2 separate regions of the Homo sapiens genome follow, and region 2 is linked to region 1. The links come from fine-mapping of genetic effects on gene expression. A gene starts in region 1. The other region holds a variant in brackets. All regions are shown on one strand. Distances are from middle to middle.

The links.
Region 2: its variant is fine-mapped to the expression of RASSF3 in whole blood (TOPMed, PIP above 0.99). The same link has a PIP of 0.9 or more in blood mononuclear cells.

What each region holds. Positions count from the first base shown.
Region 1 is chr12:64,608,059-64,613,428 of GRCh38, reverse strand. RASSF3 (Ras association domain family member 3) reads right to left here and starts at 2,934. Exons shown (of 5, transcript NM_178169.4): 1 at 2,686-2,934. The coding sequence starts at 2,796. RASSF3-DT (RASSF3 divergent transcript) reads left to right here and starts at 3,963. Exons shown (of 2, transcript NR_187549.1): 1 at 3,963-4,084. RefSeq lists silencers at 2,405-2,474, 2,685-3,204, 3,365-3,434 and enhancers at 4,065-4,124, 4,345-4,394.
Region 2 is chr12:64,693,388-64,698,757 of GRCh38, reverse strand. It overlaps RASSF3 (Ras association domain family member 3), which reads right to left. Exons shown (of 5, transcript NM_178169.4): 5 at 1,194-3,995. The coding sequence ends at 3,846. Among named protein-coding and RNA genes, the nearest start is that of GNS, 63 kb to the left of the region's middle. RefSeq lists a silencer at 4,275-4,569. The variant C/T (reference allele first, on the strand shown) is at 2,482.

The DNA of each region.
Region 1 (5,370 bases):
TCCGGATATTTTCAAGAAATCTAGAAACCTCATTTTTCTCACTTTTCCACCAGGTGGTACAGCATCCAAAAAAAAAAAAAATCACTGTATCTCTAATAGATCCTTCTAGCAATACCTCTCTTTCCATCTCTCTAGAGAAAGGATAAATTTCACTACTATGATGTATGTCAGAAGTGCTTATCTTATTCTTATAATCATCAGCATGAAAATGAAGAAAAAGGCTTATCTAACGTTAGATAAAAGGAACATTCTACATTAAGAGTGTTTTGCTTTATATTTATGATGTTTTACTTCCCTAATTCACCAATCTTACCAGGAATTTAAAACATTCATATCACTTCTTTAAATAAACCACAATGCTCACTAAAATTCGTAGTTTAGAACACTTTCTCTGCCTGGCAAATAACTTCTACAACTCAGCACCTTACATGTGTTATGTTAGAAGGGAAAAATATGCAGGCAATAAAGCTTCAAATACACATATGAAGCTCTTCAACCACGAACTATGTCTTCCTGTCCTGATTTCCAACACGATATTTCAAAATACATATTAATGTTAGACTAATTCTAAATGCTAAATAATACTACCCTGAGTATAATATATATGCTAGATGATACATAAATGATTGCATACAACATAGAAACAATAAATGTGCCGGGGGCGGTGGCTCACATCTGTAATCCCTGCACTTTGGGAGGCCAAGGCGGGCAGATTACCTGAGGCCAGGAGTTCGAGACCAGCCTGGCCAACATGGTTAAATCCCATCTCTACTAAAAATACAAAAATGAGCCAGATGTGGTGGTGCATGCCTGTAATCTCAGCTACTCGGGAAGCTGAGGCAAGGGAATCGCTTGAACCAGGGAAGCTGAGGTTGCAGTGAGATCACACGACTGCACTCCAGCCTGGGTAACACAGTGAGACTCCATCTCAAAAAAAAAAAAAAAAAAAGAAACGCTAAATGCATATAAACCTAGAAAAAAACTGATGTCTTTACTCTTTAAAGCACTAAAGGATTCTCATACAATTCAAACCTGAATAGTTTGGCCCTTGTGGCATCTCACCCCTGGAGAATCCAAGAACCAGCCAGTTTTCAGGAGATTAGCAGACACCTCTGGAATAAACTTCAAACTACCATGAGTTCCTTTTCATGTCAAGTGGTGAAAGCAACATAAATGAAAGGAGAAAATGCAAAACGGAGAAGGGGAAGAGAGAGGCCAAGAAAGAGAAAGCAAAAATGGAAAAAGCATAAGCAAATGCAATTTTTCTACAACCCAGGGAGGGTGGGCATGGGGGAGGAGAGGGCGTTTCCAACTTCCAAACTTCACAGCAATCTCATGCTCTCAGAACACACTCTGCTGAAAGTAAGAGATCCCACTCAAAGTGACTCGTAAATAGTGGGGCCTTAAGCCTTAGAAACAATACAAGACGGACAACTATGGCACCGGGACTTGAGATTAACTGCGGTTACTGAATAAGGGCACTTGACTTCAGCTTACCCTTCACCGTCTCCTCTCCTCCTCCTGGTTTGGGACTTAAGAGCCTGAAAAGACTAGAACTTCCGAATTTTAGAAAGAATTTTACTTCAGAAAGTGGCTAAACTTAAGAGGTCTGGCAAGACCACCCTGACAGATTGCACCCTCCCACATCCACCAAAAGAAGTTATCATCCGGCCCCTGAACGATTCTTCTTGCTTCTAGTCTCTAGGTCTCAGTCCGGTATTAATAGAAATGTTTGGCGAACGCCTGTTTTCTAAAAGCAACAAATTTGTGCCATTACAATCTTCTGTAATCTGATGTGAGCGTGGCCGGGTTGGCCCGGCTCCCCTGGTGCGGCTCCTAGTGCCAGGAGGCCGCGGGCTCTAGCACCGGGCTCCTCAGTCCAGCCGACGTGCCCCGTTTCGGGAAGGCCTCCCAAAAAACACGGCTACAGCTGGCGAAACTGGCACAAGTTCCCTTCCCATCTTTTCCCAACTCGTGCTTCCCACGGCATGCTGCCTCCAAAAAAGGAAGAAACCGGCGAAAAGGTTAGCTGTCGCTGGCTAGTATTTAGCATAGGAGCTTGTTTGCAAAACATCTGGGCACCAAAAAACCTAGCTTTACAGAAAACGCACAACCCTGAGTCCCGCAACGGAGATTTAGTGAGAGCCTATGGTGGCGAGGCCCACGGTGCCCTTGGACCCCCACTCCACCAGGTCGCCCGGGCCAGGAAGAGGGGAGGTCAGGTCACCCGGCCACCCCTAGCTATTACACGTTGACCCAAGCCACTCTGGGGGCCACAGATGAGTAAGCTGACTAACAGGAAGGACAGGCGCGCGAACCCGACCGTCGACCCAGCGGGGACGCGAAGGGGAAACCTGGGGGAGTGGCCCGGGGACGCCTGCTGGCTCCGGGGCTGCTCCCCGCAGGCGGCAGCCCGAGGCGGAGCTGCAGAGGCCATCTGGCGCGGAAGGCAGAAGCCGGCCCTCAGCCTCCCCGCCCTTCCTCCGCCTTCCCTCGCCTACACGCACAAGCTCCAGGCACGTTCCCGGGACCCGAAAAGGCAGAAGCCACTTCTCGGCCCGCTCCTCCTTCCCGGCGAGCATCCCCCGAGCGCCCCGCAGAGACACGTGGAGGCAGGGGGCGCGGGCTGGCGGGTTCCCCGGAACTCTGGGGCGCGGGCTGCAGCGCCCGCCGCGCGCCACTCACTTGTTGGCCGGAGCGGGGCTTGCCCTGGGGCGCTCTCCTGAAGAAGGAGGTCCTGGCGGTGAAGAAGAAGTCCTCGGCGTCCTCCTCCAGGCTGCTGTAGCCGCTGCTCATGCTGCCGGTCCCGTCGCGCGCGGGCGGCCTCCCCGGGGCGCAGGCGGCCAGGGAGGGGGTGCGGCGCCCGCCAGCCCCGCGAGGTTCCCGGCGCGCAGCCCCGGGCAGTCCTTATGCAGCTGCGGCCGCCGCTCAATCAGGCTCTCCCGGCCCCTCCTGCCGCCTCCCCGCCAGGCTCCAGGCGCGGCTCGGCCCCGGTGCGCCCGCGACCCCGCCTCCCTGGGCCCCGCCCCGGACGGGCGACCGGCCGAGCCCCACCCCGCGCGGCCGCGACCCTCCCCGCCCGCCCGCAGGTGGGGGGAGCCCGGCCCGCCCCTTCCAGGCGCGCGGGTTTCTCCCGACAGCGTCGCGGAACCCGGAAAGCCGGGCGCTAGGGCTGCGTCTGCTGGGGCTGTGCTCGGGTCGCTTCCTCAACCTCCCGGAAACTGCAAATTCCTCTGCGAGCCGTCCGCCCGCCCCCAGCCTCGCTGGCTCGAGTTTCGGAGAGGGCGGGAGCAGAGCGGGGAACTTTCTCTGCGTCCACTCCCTGCTCGCCCCCGCACCAGGGTCCTGTAGGGGTGGGTGGGGGTTGCCCGGCCGAGGGACCCCCCAGGTCCCACGGCTTCCTGCAGCCGCAACGCCCAGTCCTGAACCCCAGCAGCTCGCCCCTCCAGGAGGATTTCAAGTTGGCAGAGATGGGTGGGGAGGTCAAAAACTGGGTTGAGTTTATTCGAATGAAAACATCCTTTCTGGTCATTCATTTGAGCTTCGGTCTTACCCTTTTCCCCTTCTTTCTAGCGAGGGCTCACTTCCAAATAAGATCGTTATCTTAGGCGCACTCAGTGCAACTGAAAGGTGAACTAGTTCTATAGTTACAGAACAATCGAGTGCTTATCAATTAAATGTGCTTTGTAAATGTCCCCGCCACAATCAGCCTTCCACGGTCACCCACAAGGCATGGTTTAAGTGGTGGGGATAAGGAGATCAGGGAATTCCATCCATCCACGTACAAAAAAAGTTTCCATGTTTTCTAAAACTCTTCAGTCAGCTAATCCTCTTAAAGCCACCAGTGGGTAACAGTCTTTTACACCTTGGTGTTACTGCACTGATTTAAATAATACTAATTTCAAGATCTTGACTGAAAGGTTTTTTTGAAGCTGCAAGCCCTGCTATAGTTAGCGAGCTTCAGAAGAGGTTTCATTAGGAGGGGAAGAGAGACGTTAGAAAAGAGAAAATGTCCATCCATCATAGCCAAACTAGCCAAACTCTCTTACATTATCTCCTTCAATCCTCCGAGCAACTCTGCAAGGTACGTAGTGCTATTTTATGCCGGTTTTACACCTAGAGCAGCAGCTGAGGCTTAAAGAAAGGAAAGTGGCTGTAGGAGGCAGTACTCGGACCGTTCTGCTTTGCGTTCTGTTGATCTGAACGTGGTCACATACCCTACTGGGTTCTCTGCTTGGTATCGGTCAGCCGTGCTCTTTTGTGGACTACAGGAGGAAGAGTTGGACCCGAAATGACGGGAAGGAGAGAAGAATTGACTCATGAGTCATCCTACTGTCCCTAGGCTGAAAGAAGGCTTGCAAACCTGCTCCACCTTCGGGCTTACACATCCATCTTGTAAACTAGTATATATTACCCCACGTGATTCACAACAACTCCAGAAGGAGGGCCTTTGAGTTACAGCCCATTTTAAAGGTCCTACAACATTAAAGTCTTCTTCTCGGCCACACAGCTACTGAATGATAGGAAGCCAGGAATTCTAACTCCATATAGTTTCACCCAGCTTAAGCTGATCCGTGTGTGTGCCATGCACATAATCTAATGTAGGAGAATAGGGCTTTATGACAAATTTTTCTTATTTGGTTTCTCTTATTTCATTATTCAGATATAATATTAGCGCAGCTCTTATTAAATATTCCAAGGTAAGAATAATGTGTAGGTTAAGGGCTTAAATTACTCATTTTATTGTGGGTAGAAAGGGGAAAATAATTTTACCTAGAACAAGTTGAAGTTTATGAATACTTTGAGGAAAAATGCATTAAAATGCTTTATTGGCCGGGCGCGATGGCTCACGCCTGAGGAGGCAGAGGCGGGTGGATCACTTGAGGTCAGGAGTTGGAAACCAGCCTGGCCAACGTGGTGAAACCCCGCCTCTACTAAAACTACAAAAATTAGTTGGGCGTGGTAGCGTGCGCCAGCTACTCGGGAGGCTGAGGCAGGAGAATCGCTTGAACCCGGAGTGGCCTAGGTTGCAGTGACCCGAGGTGGCGCCATTGCACTCCAGTCTGGGCGACAAGAGCAAAACTTCGTCTCAATAAATAAATAAATAAACTTTATGATGCACCACACCATAAAAATGATTTTTTTCATTGTATTATTTTTAAGCTCCAAAGGACTGGATTAATTTGTATATCTGTCAGCATACCATCAGAATCAGTTATAATAAAAAGGCATGATTGAGTGGGGCACAGGGGGAAGCTGAGGTGGAGGATCACTTGAACTCAGGAGTTCCTATCCAGCCTGACCAACATAGTGAGACCTTTTCTCTAAAAAAAAATGATTTTTTTATAAAGGCATGATTAGGCCAGGCAT
Region 2 (5,370 bases), 85 kb before region 1:
AGGTTTTTTTTTAGTAATAAAAATTGACTTAAAAAAAAAAGTCCTACCTGTAATCCCAGCACTTTGGGAGGCTGAGGTGTGTTGGTCACTTGAGGTCAGGAGTTTGAGACCAGCCTAGCCAACGTGGAGAAACCCCGTCGCTACTAAAAATACAAAAAAAAAAATTAGTCGGGTATGGTGGCAGGCACCTGTAATCCCAGCTACTAGGGAGGCTGAGGCAGGAGAATCGCTTGAACCTGGGAGGTGGAGGTTACAGTGAGCCAAGATCATGCCACTGCACTCTAGCCTGGGTGGCACATTGAGACTCCATCTCCAAAAAAAATAAAGGATAAAAATATAAAAATTCCCAAACATTCTCCACGCACCTTGGGTAGTAACCCAAGTAGAACCCCCAAACCTGATTCCTCTGAATATTTCAGTAGAAAAGCAAAATTATACAGAGCCATAATTTTCTATCACAGTATTTTTATTTAGGGAGCAGCTATGGTACGTGAAAGGCCTCTACCACCTGGTGCCAGCCTTGCTCCTTTCATCAGCCCCTCCAGGGGGCAGTGTAGTAGTAAAAACACTCCCAACAGCAGGCATGGAAGCTGAAACCATGGCACAAAGCCGAGGTGCAGGTGCGCAGAGGGTGGCACTCCATCGTCCCTGTGGTTCCCCAGACACTATCCATCCCATCTGTGTAAGGCAGTCATGGTGACCAAAAAAATACAAATACTCACTTTATGTTGAAGTGGTATGTTTCAGGGGTAGGAGACCTCAGGGCAAGAACAGGGGTGGAGGGAGAGATTTCTAAAGAACTGACAAGGTTCTATTTTAGTAATGGTCAGGGGGTGTCCATTTTATATAATAATCCTTTAAACTGTTCGCATGCTTTTTTATTTTTATTTTTTCACTCTCGGCCTCCCTCCTCTTTTGCATGCTTTATATACTTTTAAATGTGTATATTTCAAAAATTAAAACAATTGTTTTAAATACATTGGAATATGCTGTGTGAGCTTAGGGTTATTTTTCCTCAGAGGATAAGGCAAAGAGAAAATGATATCTGGGAGAACAAATATGACCCACGCGAACCTAGTAAAGTTGTTGCATTCCAGCATGTGTCCCTGTGTATATGTGCAAAAGCAGCTCAGCGCACTCCTGTGACCTTTTTAAATCTAGCATATTATCATAAATAAACACACATAAACAACTAATAACTTCAATTTTTAATAATGGAAACAATTTTGCCATTCTAGAAACTATTTTAGGGGAGAAAAATCTTCCCTACAAAAATAAACTTAAACCCATCAAAATTATAAATATTATAACTTTTTACTTCTGCCATTTAAAATGCTCTCCTGCAATACCACCCCTTCATTTAACATCCTTCCTGTACCATCACATATTGAAGAGAAAACAGTATTACAGCAAAGCTTAGATAGTTTAACATAATGATTTGTACAATGATTCTTAAAAAATCTTTGGCCTTAGTGGCCTTTTTTCTTCACTTACACATTAAAAATGCTGCTGCAGTAACCAGTGTTTGGGAAAGGACATCAGTCTTCAAGAACCATAAACTGACAGAATTTCAATACAGTAGGTTTCCAAATTGCAATTTGTAGTGCACATGACAGTAAGCGAGGTTTTGGGTAAATATAGATGAGGATGCCTATTCAGACAATCTACTTCAAGTAAAAAAAAAAAAAAAAAAAAAATTCACAGATACCCATCAGCTACTACTTTAGGTTCTAACAGTGTCTTAATCTGAGAAACAAATGCTTCACAAAATATAAGTTTACTGGGATGAATAATTAAAAAACCAGGTGGTAATAACAATATACTCAAATCCAGGCCATAGTCTGAATAATAAAACCAGTACAAAAAATCACGAAGGCATTCCCTGAACAATAAAGGTAAAGTGTTGGATGACAATGTCACTAAAACCTCATCAATGTACAAAAGAGAAGTTACATGCAAAATTAAACAAGATGTGCCATACATATTTTATAGCTAATTCTATTTTTTTCAACTTTCCTTAAATGCTTAGGAAGATATGATTGTCTCAGTAAATTGTGTGGCACAGCATAACAACTTAAGTCTGCCTCCAACAAGATGGGTATTCTCCAAAAAGTCAGAAGAGCCACCAAGAGACGAACAGAAATGCAATAAAAGGCACAGTTCACTTGGGCAAAGAACTGAAGCACCTTGGAATTTCAAAAAGAATCCATTAGGTGTCACCAAAGTGTTAACAATTCCTTGGGAATTTATAAACAAAAAATATCTAGACTAAAAATAGAATATAAGGCCCCTCTGGAACCACTGCACACCTTTCCCTCTGTTCTCAGATTAAACTGCTGCATAAAATGAGGTTATTTAGCCTGTTTTTAAGGAAGGCTTCTATTGCACATGCATCTCTTTGGTTGGTAATAACATGTACTTTTGTTAAAATATTTCCATAATGAAGCCCTGTTGTGTGGTTAGCTGGGTGTGGACTTTCCT[C/T]CCTTTCTTGGGGGCCCTCCTACTCACAGTCAAGTTGCCCTTTAGAACTAAAGATCTGGTAGGATTGGGTCTTTATTCAATAGCCCTGTTCTCTATTATGTAAGAACAGATTTCAATGTAGAAAAGAAAGGGAGAGGGAGAGAGAGGGAGGGAAGGAGGGAGGGAGGGAGGGAGGGAGGGAGGGAGGGAGGAAAAGAACAAGGTAGGGTGGGAGACAGCAGGGAAGGAAAGAAAAAAGGGAAGAAAGGAAAAGGAAAGGAGGAATAAAAGGGAAGAGAGTGATTGTCACCAAAGTTTACTTGACAAATATCCTAGCTAACAATCAAGGGAAAAACAGCTGCCCCTACCCAAATTCCGTCTCAACTTTGAAAACCACCTGTGGGGGGAAAGCTATACACTATGTAACTTAACAAGAGTTAGTGAACTGTCACTGTCCTGCCTATGCAGAGCAGCTACACCAATCAGACCTTCCACTCCAAAAGGGCAGAATTAAAGGGTCGGATCCAGCTGCGTGAGGCCCACCTCTGCCCAGGTCAGTAGGCTACACCTGCCTGATTCTCTGATTGGTCAGCTGCAGAGTTCATGGGTCCCTCCTTTTGGTTTAGCTCCTGCCTCTGGCTCTGTTCCCATATTCTACCCACCAGGAAACCAAGCGATCCTAAAATGGGTTTAACACCTCCACACTGAATGCTTTTAACTCGTTTACAAGCAACTACCCCTTTCTCCACTACCCCTAACTGAAAAGCCAAGTCACCTTCCATAGCCCGCAGCACTCGCCACCACCGCACATGCCTTCTTCCAAACTTACACTTTGCTTTCTCTGTCAACCCCCTAACAAAATCCTTCACAATAAATTCCTCAGAGTTCCTAGATTCCTGTGCCTTTCGATTCACATGGATAGATTCCTCTGACATTAAAAAAAGAAAACAAAACCAAACAAAAAACCAGACAGGTAGTTTCAAAATAGGACAAGTATTCAGAAAGATTCCTAGTTAAGCTTTTTAAAAAATCAACTGCATATCTGTAAGCTTAACAGCATCATCACATAATTAAAATAACCAAAAAAAAAAACACCCCCAGAGTTCATGCTTCCAAGCACCCTCGAATGCTCCTGATGAGGCGACAGGTTCACAGCTTGCCAAGAGGTAACACTGCGGTGCTGAACAACAAGCTTGCAGAGTCCCTTACATGGGACGCTAAGGTGCAGGATGCTGTGTGACCAGGTTTGGGGAACAAAATCTACAGATAGAAAGGCGAAGACCCTAGCATAGTGGGGCAAGACAGCAGCCCTCTGAGAAGAGAGGCACTTGCTGCTGTTTTGTACATCGGTCCTGCACCGGGCCTCACGGGCAGGGAGCCCCGCTTTAATCAGGCTTCCACACCTCACGGAGGGCTTCTTCCAGCTTCTGCCTGTAGGCTGTGTAGCGCCTCTTCAGGTTCTGCAGCTGTTCATCTTCTTCCTTGTCCAAGATGCGCAAGAAATTCTGTAGTTCTGGAAGGCTGAAGGCTTCCCACTGTCAGGAAACACAGAAAGAAAAATGCCAGATGTTTAATACTCAGTTAGACTTAGGAATGCTGACCAGGAGCTCCCAGAGGTGCGGCTGCCCTCCCCTCCCAGCCCCATGCCGCAGAAGGTGTGGTCTGCAAGAGCTGGGGTGTTGCCAGCCTAAGGGCTCCCTCCACTCCCACTCCCACCTCAGCTCACACCAATCACCTTCCTACCCTCTCCTCCCACTGTTCAAGACGATCTCCCTAAAAGCCAGAGACCTCCATATCCCTAAGTCTATTGGACACTTTCATTCCTTACCTGATTTGACCCCCAACAGCATTAAAAACAATTCGACAGTCCTTTCATCTTAACCTCGAGTCCTCATTGTAACTGACTTTCTTACCTCGCATAATCAGTCTTATCACCCCCAAACAGTTCTCCATTCAGCCTTTTCTCCCTCGGTACGGCCCCTTGGTGCTAGCTACTATCATCTATTCCTGCATCGCTGGAACAGCTTCCTACCTGGCCTCCTCACTCGGCTCTTATGCTCCCCCATCTGTTCCCCAAACAGAACATCCTTTGTAAAATGCTCATCTGGCCAAGACTCTCCCCTGCTTAGAACCATCCAATGGCTTCCCTTAGTTGCTGATGCTGTCTGAAAGACTCTAAACTCTCCGGCCCCATCTCTCTCTCACCGAGCTTCACTCTCTGCCCAAGTGGCACGCATTCTCCCCTCCTCCACTTTGCCTGGCTATGAACTACTCATCCTCCCCATCTCAGCTTAAATGCCACTTTCTCTAAGCAGCTTTCCACAACTTCCTCTCCTCTCTTCCCACCCAAGGCTAAGTGTATCAAAAGCCTTCACAGAGCCCCTGATCACAACCAAGATTTTTAAATTACAATTATTTGCTTAATATCTATCTCACCTGCACCTTACCTACACCACAGCTGCCGTACTTCTCGCTATTTGGAGTTTATCTCTTGCCTTGAGGCTCTGAGCCTTGTTTCCCTAACAGCTCCTAGTACTTATTTAGCAGGCACAAAATAAGTTTTTAGGCTGGGCATTGTGGCTCATGCCTATAATCCTAGCACTTTGGAATGCTTAGGCAGGAGGATCATTTGAGCCCAGAAGTTCAAGACCAGAAGTTCGAGACCAGCCTGGGCAAAATAGTGACACCAGGTCGCTACAAAAAATTTAAAAATTATCTGGCTGTGGCAGTACATTCCTGTAGTCCCAGTTACTTGGGAGGCTGAGGTAGGAGGATTGCTTGAGCCCGGGAGATTGAGGCTGCAGTGAGCCATGATTGCGCCACTGTACTCCAGCCTGGGTGACAGTGCAAGACCTAGTCTCTTTAAAAAGAAAAAAAAAAAAATTAAAACAGATTTTAAAAAATAGAAGC